2 linked regions of the Homo sapiens genome follow. The protein of the gene in region 1 interacts with the protein of each later gene in a biochemical or structural test. Each region holds a gene or a part of one and is shown on either strand. Other genes may lie near its edges.

What was found. Proteins that work in one complex are often made in the same cells at the same time.
Region 2: the proteins of NFKB1 (region 1) and LYL1 form a complex in vitro, tested with the Homo sapiens proteins (one study listed by BioGRID).

Annotation. Positions count from the first base shown.
Region 1 is NC_000004.12:102,595,280-102,599,967, forward strand, and holds part of NFKB1 (nuclear factor NF-kappa-B p105 subunit), read left to right. Parts: intron 1-858; coding exon 859-1,053; intron 1,054-2,240; coding exon 2,241-2,382; exon of another isoform or gene 2,383-4,456; intron 4,457-4,688.
Region 2 is NC_000019.10:13,100,059-13,104,039, forward strand, and holds the start of LYL1 (protein lyl-1), read right to left. Parts: upstream 2,801-3,981; 5' UTR 2,473-2,800; intron 1,138-2,472; 5' UTR 1,114-1,137; coding exon 779-1,113; intron 691-778; coding exon 599-690; intron 1-598.

The DNA.
Region 1 (4,688 bases):
CTTAATGTATTCTGTCTCTTTTTTTCTCAAATAGTACACTTCTGAAATCATTTTGAGTTTTATAGGATCGGTCTTTTCCCATCAAGTCATCCCCTGAGAAGCTGCAGTTAAACCACATGTTGATAGTTTATATTACAGGTCCATTCTAGTGTACCCATGGAAGAAATAATACTATAAAGAAGTCTTCCCATTTATTGAATACCTATTTTTGTGCCAAGTGCTTTTACATGTTTTAACTGTTATCTTCATGACTGCTCTATATGGAAAATAGTAACTCCATTTTGCACACAAAAGGCATCAAAGTTCAGAAATGTTCGTACTCACTGAAGGCACACAGAAGTTAGTGGCAGAACAAGAATTTGAAGCAGGTCTCCTGCAGAAAAGCTAGATGCTCTCATAGTATCTGTCAGATAACATAGTTGAACCTGAAAGAGGGTGATCAGGAATGGTACACTGGATAACTCCCACACTAAAGAATGTGAGTCGACAACACGTCTTTATGATTTGCTTTGTTCATTAGCATTAGGAAAAAACTGCTCTGTTTTCAAGAACTTTAAAAATTCAGCTTTCCTGCAATTCATAGAAGAGCTTTATTTCATTTTTCTCCTTTACAAATAAGCAAAATGAGATTTAAGATTTTAGAAGTATACTAAAAATGATTTTTAGAAATGAGTTTAGAATATCTCCAAAACATGGTATTTATGATATGACCATTTTTAAAAGAATTTTAAATTATTATTTTTCTTTTCCTTTTGCAGCAAACTTGTCTCTTACCTTTATCTGACCTACATTGGAATAGCGAATTATCACTAAATACATTTTACTGAGAAAAATCTGATGTTTTTGCATTTATCTTAGGAACCATGGACACTGAATCTAAAAAGGACCCTGAAGGTTGTGACAAAAGTGATGACAAAAACACTGTAAACCTCTTTGGGAAAGTTATTGAAACCACAGAGCAAGATCAGGAGCCCAGCGAGGCCACCGTTGGGAATGGTGAGGTCACTCTAACGTATGCAACAGGAACAAAAGAAGAGAGTGCTGGAGTTCAGGGTAAGTGAGCACACAAATTACGTTCTGTTGGTTGGCTGGGGAGGGGTCAGTCCTAGGTGCAGAAAGATATCTGCTAATCTAAAGATGATATATCAATATCTAGTTTAGTGTACTCTTCAAAGTTCTGTATGCCTTTGGAAAAGCATATGTCAGATCATTTTATTCACACTGGGATTTCCATTTTTGCTCTGTTATCTTTGAATGTAAAGGACAGAAATTTATATGTACATTCTCCAGTCATAATCATGCAGTTTTAGGGTATTGTGAGAGATAATCAACTTCTTTTCTGGCACAGATAAATAGAGAAGTATTTCCACAAGCTTAATAGTCACCCTGTCTAGATTCTGGCTTAACCGTCATACTGAAATAGAACTTTGCCTTAAAATAGGAACTTTTCTTTTTATCTTGTGCCCTCTTTGAAGAAGTAGGATTAGGAGAAAATGTACTTTTGCGTTTACTGTGAACCAATACTTATTAGCATATGTGTCATGATTCTAGGTCATCCTAGATCGTACTAAGAAGACGTCTATAAAAGCAAAGGTAGTAAATATTTAGAGTTGGTGGCCACATGTGGTGTCTATCACATATGCTTTTTTTTTACACCCCTTTAAAAATGTATAAGCCATGATTAGCTAGGGAGCTATATGAAAAGCAGGCCATAAACAGGTTTTGGCCCAAAGGTCACAAATGCCATTCCCTGACCTTAATGGAACAAACTTTACAAAAACGTGAGTGGCTCATTGAACGTCTCTGTTTATGGCAGAGATGTGTGTTTTTTCACACATTGCCTAACAAGCTAATTGTTAGAGATTCCAATGAAGGATTATTTCACCAAGATATTGGTGATTTAAAATCATGGTAAAATCTAACATTGTTTGGAGATTGTTTTCCTTAAAATAACAGATAATGGTCGTTCCCTTAAAATAATACATTTCTAAACTTTTTTCCTCTAACAAATCATACACAGATTCTTTAAGATCAATCTCTAACTATATTTGTCAGTGACCCAGTGTCCAATTCTGCTTTTTCTAGTCCACACAATCCAAAAGCATTGAAAGAACATTTTCAACTAAAATGATATGTCAAGGTGTCAGAACACTGATGCTGGTCAGTTTGTCCTTAAGCATGCCATACCCATAAAACAAAAGTAGGAACACTCAACTATGATTGTGGTCATTGCCTTACAGATAACCTCTTTCTAGAGAAGGCTATGCAGCTTGCAAAGAGGCATGCCAATGCCCTTTTCGACTACGCGGTGACAGGAGACGTGAAGATGCTGCTGGCCGTCCAGCGCCATCTCACTGCTGTGCAGGATGAGAATGGGGACAGGTAAGTCAGAACTTTTGCATGATAGGTTGTCCTGGGTGGGGAAGAAGAAGAGCATCGTATAATGCATACTGACTAGAGATAAAAATAATTGTTCAAATATATTGAGTCCTCTAACTGGAATGATGAAGAAAAATAATGTGTGAATAAGGTTAAGTAGCACAATTTGCTGCTCCATCCTGCTGCTGTCATCTGTTGGAATCTGTAGTAGCTGGAGGACTCATCTAAGAGTGAATCTCTCTGGGCAAGAAAACTAAGATGTGTGTAGGTAATGGTACTTTTTGAAAAGCCTTGCTTTGTTTATTGAAGTAATATTTGGAGAATTGTTAAGAGTCCTACCAAATCCCTGAAGCATTGTTATCCCAGCTGCATATTTATGACAGTGTACTCAAGAAAAAGCCCAATAAAGGCAGCAACAACAACAGAAAGATTAAGAGGGACTGGTCATTATTTCCCAGTTACTGGTTTCTTCTCTGCTCCCTCTTCTGATGGTCATCAGTCTATGACTGTTTCAGACTTTTGTGACTGCTCCAGCCCATATGTGGGAGTGGAACATTCCAAACACCATGCCTTCCATTCTTGCTATTACTGAGATTGTATTTGCAAAGCCACCTGGCTTCTTTCTAAAACAGTTCTCTTAGTCCTTTCATTGAGACTTCTAAAATGATCTCAAAAGCCTATAAAAATAACAAGAGACAGCAGCCTTCACATTCAAGTCAAGTGCCTTATCTAAAACCTTCCTAAAATAGCATCAACATAGAGAAATCCTTTTCTGTGGAAGAGCTCTTGAGTGCTGTGTTTTAGACTTCAGTTTAAAAATTAAACCAAGCACTTTAGGAAAGTAACAACCTCAGGGTTTCAAGCAGAGACACCTTTGTTCTCATTCCTTGCAACGTAACCAAGGATGTGGTATAACCACTGGCCTTGTTATACAGTATGAGAGGAACCAGTACAACCTTCTTGGTATAAAGCCATGAACAGCAGAATTCTTTTTCAGGGTTAAATAATCCAGTTAGCATTCAGTAGCATACAACCACAAGAAAAAGCAGTTAACCAAGACAGTACAGCAGTGTTTCAAGTGGCATTTCCAGGGACCTGTTAAATTGATAAGTCTAAGAAGATGAGCACATACAGGTTAGAAAGGAAGTGCTGATATCTGAAGGGAGGATTGTTGGAAGGGATACAAGGCGAGGCACATGCAAGTTCCCTCCTAAGACCCAAGCACACTCACACAAGCCGGCTCTCAGAGAGGCCACAGATTTGGGACTTGGAGAGACCAGAGGATCCTCATAAGAGCATAGGTATAGGGCAGCTTTTGGCCATCACAGCCCAAGTCTCTTGTTTTAATTCAGCTCGTCATATTTGGCTAATAGTTTAAATCCTGTGGCCATTAGTCATCATAGAAAATATAATAAAGAAAAATATATAAAACTTCTGCTATTGGGGAAATTCCCATAAGGGTGTGAGGATTTGAGGGGGAGGGGGAATGTACTTCTGCTATGAAATGCTGAGCGGCACATGGAAATTTTCGAGCAGTTTTAGAAGTATGACCTTTTTCTTGGTGTATGTGCATCATGTCTATGTCAGAGTTTAGGCCCTTTTCAGAAGTCTTCTTCCAGTATCACATTTCAAGAAGCAATAGTGAAACCCTGAGATCATCCGTTTTAAAATATTTCTCAAGTAGCAAAATCACAATTTAGTTTTTTAGGCTCTTCTGTGCCGGAGTTAATCCCAAGTACGATATACTTGCTATTGCTAAGGAAGAGGCTTGAGTAAAGTGGCACCTGATAGCTTATTTTAGAGAAGATCCAGCCTGTACCTCGTGTCCCAGATGTAGTGCTGCTGCGAGATGCTTTAGTGTGCTCTGCACCTCAATCTGTCCATGCTCTGGAGTGGTCATCTTCTTAGACATTCATCTGAATGTCTTTAGAACAGTGCACATGTATCCCCTATGCAGGATTGCTTAAGGGATTAAGAGATGGCTTTGGAGTAAGACAGGCCTGGGCTTGAATCCCAGCTTCACCACGTATTGGCCTTGACTGAGTTATATGACGCCTGCAAGTCTCAGTTTCATTAGCTGAAAAGTGAAGATAATATTACCTAACTCATAGGATTATTGTTATAGTAAAAAGACAATATATATCAAATGCTTAGCATAGTCTGGTAAATCAAAGCTCCCAACAAATAGTAGCCACTGGTAAAATGATTGTTATTGTTATTGTTTTGAATTTTAATAGTATGTTTTTTAATAATTAAAAGAATTACGCTCCTGTGAGTGACTTTGACACCACCAGTATGTTCAGCCTCAT
Region 2 (3,981 bases), on another chromosome or scaffold:
TGCCCAAGTACGGCTGGCTGGGTGTACTCATGGGTCTGAGAGGTCCTCTCATTATGACTGTCTGTGTCCTGTGTCTTGTATGACTGTGTGAGACTCTTGTTATGTCTCATGGCTGTGGTTATGTGTGATGTTGCCATGTGGCTGTTTCACGAGTGGCTGTGGTTGTGTGGCTGACTCTTGTGTGGCCGTGGTCCTAAGTGGCTGTGGTCCTGTGGCTGTCTTGTGTGTGGTTGTGGTCCTGTGGCTGTCTCTTGCATGGCTGTGGTCTTGTGGCTGTCTTGCGTGGCTGCACATTCCAGTGGAGCTGTCATTTTGTGGCTCCCATGCCCTGGTGTGGCATGCTCTGTTTTGCCGTGACTGCGGCTACATGGCTTGGCCTGTTGGGTGGCGGTGGTTGTGTGGGGCTGGCTATGGGACTGCGATTTTGCACATGGGTAGAACCTATGTGGGCTGTTCTCTGTGTGTGCTGGAAGCACGTCTCCCCGAGGTGGAGTAGAGGACAGACATGAGCCCCACACAGAGACGGCCAGGCCTTCTGTGCACCCACAAGTGCACATACAGGCATACAAACCCACAAGGCACACAAACCCACACTCACCCTCAGCCAGGTCCAGCTCACAGTGGCTTGGTCTCCGCTTCAACCGGCTGCTAGGGAAGATGCTAAAAGGTCCTGCTGGCCCAATGTAGACACTGTAAGGGGTCGTGGGTCACTAATGCCTTGTGGGCAAGGACCCTGGCCCCCAATCCCCACTGCCCCCCACCCCAGATCCCCACTGACCTGTTGAGGAAGGGGTGAGGGTGGTAGTGCAGGGCCAAAGTGGGCGGGGCAGTTCCCAGGGTGGAGAGTTGCAGCAGCGGGGGCCGCAGAGTGCCCAGCTCTGTGGTGGGCATGGCTACCCCTGGGGGCCTGCTGTGGCCCAGGCTGATCACTGGTACACCAGGTGGCAGCCTGGGGGGCGAGGAGCCTCCTCGGTGGCCCACCTCCTCCACCTGCGGGGGCCCAGGCGAGGCAGGCTTAGGGGGTGGGGCAGGCGCTGGGCTGGGGGCACACACCATCTCTGCCTTCTCAGTCATGGTGGGGCCCACCTCTGCCTGTGCCTGAGGCGGGCACATGGACCCCGACGTGGGGGTACTCACCTGTGGGAAAGAAGGCAGCCAGTGGGGAGGAGGACTAGGTGCCCCGCTCCCACCTGCTTAGCTCAAGAAACCCCTCAAATGGGAAGGAGGGAGGGGGAGGGGGAAAGGAGGAGGAGAGAAGTTTCAGTAGGCAAAGGCAGATGGCGGGGGCAGGCCCAGAAACTTCCAGGACACGGGAGGGGGGTCCTACGTTAGAGTAGGAGGCGCCCCCCAGGTGCTAGGCAGCGCACTGTCCCTGAGCTCTTTGTGACCCAGGAGGGGCGCTGTTGCCCAGCCTCTGAGCAAATATTCCTTCTTCCAGAATTCCCTCACCTCTGCAGCCTGGAGAGGGAACAAGACAGGGAGCCCCTAACTGATCCTGGGATCCCCAGAAACCCCAAGATTAACCCTGTTATCCTCAGATCTAAAGATCCAACCCAGAGACTCCTCATTAACTCATTGATGCCATGTGAGCTTGGAATCCCTCCAAGATGGACTCTGACCCTTCACGGAAGGCCCCCAGCCCCCACCCAGGCTGACCCTCTGCACCTCAAGAATGACCCTGCGGTTCTTCCCATTGCTGTCCCTGAAAGTGCTCCATAATTGCTTGAGTGACCCCCACTCCCACTGCAAACATCCCCCATAGCAACCCTGTGACCCCACTACTGACACTATGACCTCAAATGCTGACCCTAGACCCCCAAACACTGACCCCACTGCCCAGTCCAGTCCAGTCATGCCCCAACCCTCCCTCTGGCTTGGAAGCCCCCATCCTCATCAGCATCCACGCTTTTTAAAATTTGTTTATTTTTTTAGAGACAGGGTCTCCCTCTGTTGTCCAGGCTGGAGTGCAGTGGTGCAATCATAGTGCACTGCAGCCTCAAATTCCTGGGCTCGAGCCATCCTCCTGTCTCAGCCTCCTGAGTAGCTGAGAGTACAGGCATGTGCCACCATGCCCGGCTAATTTAAAAAAAAAAATTTTTTTTGTAGAGGCAGGTTCTCACTCTGTTGTCCAGGGTGGTCTGGAACTCCTGGGCTCAAGTGATCCTCCTGCCTCAGCCTCCCAAAGTGCTGGGATTACAGGCATGCACCACAATGCCCCGCGATCATCCACAGTTTTGCATACTGTTTTGACATCCCTGTTTGCTCTTGGTTCCAGAGTCCAGGATGTCCCAGCAAGGTGTGAGACTGTTGGCCCCTCTGCCCTGTCTTCCTCAGCTAGGCCCTGGGGAAGCAGGCCTGGCCCCTCACTAGTGGGTCCCTGCTGGTGAATGAATGAATGAAGGAATGAACAAAGGAATGCAGGCTGGGTCCCAGGCCCGGGATCCTCCACCTTTAGGCCCGCTCCCCTCTTACCCCAGCACTGTTCTTGCAGCCTGGTGAGTGCCCTGGCTCTGTCCCGTCAGGGCTGGCAGTCTGGGCCAGGGTGTGGTTTCCAGCGTCAGGCCAGGCTCTGCTGTCTCGCGAGGGTCCGGCCTCAATGCTCCAGGCCCCGGCGTTGGGCCGCGCCTCCTCGTGGGCCTCGGAAGGCCAGGATAGCCGAGGTCTCCGCGTAGGTCCCCCCCAGGGAAAGTGAGCGGCTCCCGGGCCGGCCCGCCTTCTCCCCGCCCCCGGCGGCCCGGTTTCCTCCCTCTCACCCCTGGCGGCGCAGCGGCCGGAGGATGCTGGCCCAGTGCAGATAAGGGCCAGGCTGCCTGGCCGCGCCTGATAAGGAGCCTGGCTGACCCCGGAGGAAACCAGCGGGCGGGGACCTAGCAGCGCGGGCCTCCCGGCCCCGCCCCCAGCCGGCGCTGGCAGGACTCGGTCCGCCACCCCTCAGGGCTTCGCCTTCCGCTCCCCCAGCCACTGTAGGGACCCCGGGCCTCTGGGGACCCGGGCCCCAGGGCAGCCGGGGAGGGAGGTGCCTGGATGCACGCAGGGGGTAAACTGAGGCAGGGAAGCTGCCTCCTCTTATGTCCGAGTCTGCCCTTTGGCTTTGCACACTCCCTGCCCGAATGTCTGTGCTGATGGGGGTGAGGGAGAGCCCTTTCCGGCCCGTTGGGGCCGCGTGACCCTGGGCCCCCACCTCCTCTCCTCACCCAGCCTGGTTCCTCTTTTTACAGAGGCCCTTCCCTCCTCTCCACCACCCCTACCCGGGAGTGGGGCACCCAAAGGGGAACAGTTCTAACAGTCTGGCCTTGGGTGTCCAGCCTGGGCAGGTGTCCCAAGCCCTCAGCACAGTATCCACACATTTCCAAGCCCAGGAGGGTGAGAGGAAGAGCCATGGCTGTCAGGGGTGGGGTGGGGAAGTTGGATTTCCTAGGGTGCTGGGGCTGGTGTGACCTTCCAGTAGATGCCCAACAGGTCCCCACAACTATAGGCCTCTTGGCTACAGGATCACATAACTCCAACTTGGTGGTCCATGGCCCTCACCCCACAGCACCCGGCCCCTTCATGGGGGGCAGTTATCCTGGCTTGGTGGTAAACCTCAAGACCCTACTGGAGCCTCCCACAGGGAGAGGCTCTGGGCACAGCCAGGCAGCAGCAGCTACCAGACTGCCACCCACTTGTGATACTCATGCTTTGGCCCGTCTGTGTATCTGGGCAACTGCAAGAGCCCCCAGGCAGGCAGGCACCCAGCAGCAGGACTACCAACCCCCCCCCCCCCCCGCCCAGGAATGGGGTGGAGCCCAGGACCCCACGATCAACACCTCCATTGCTTTCCTCCAAAGAAGCAGGAACTAAAGTTTTATGCAGTAAAGGCCGGGCTTGGTGGCTCATGCCTGTCATCCCAGCACTTTGGGAGGCTGAGGCTGGCGGATTGCTTGGGCTCATGAGTTTGAGACCAGCCTGGGAAACATGGCAAAACCCCATCTCTACAAAAAA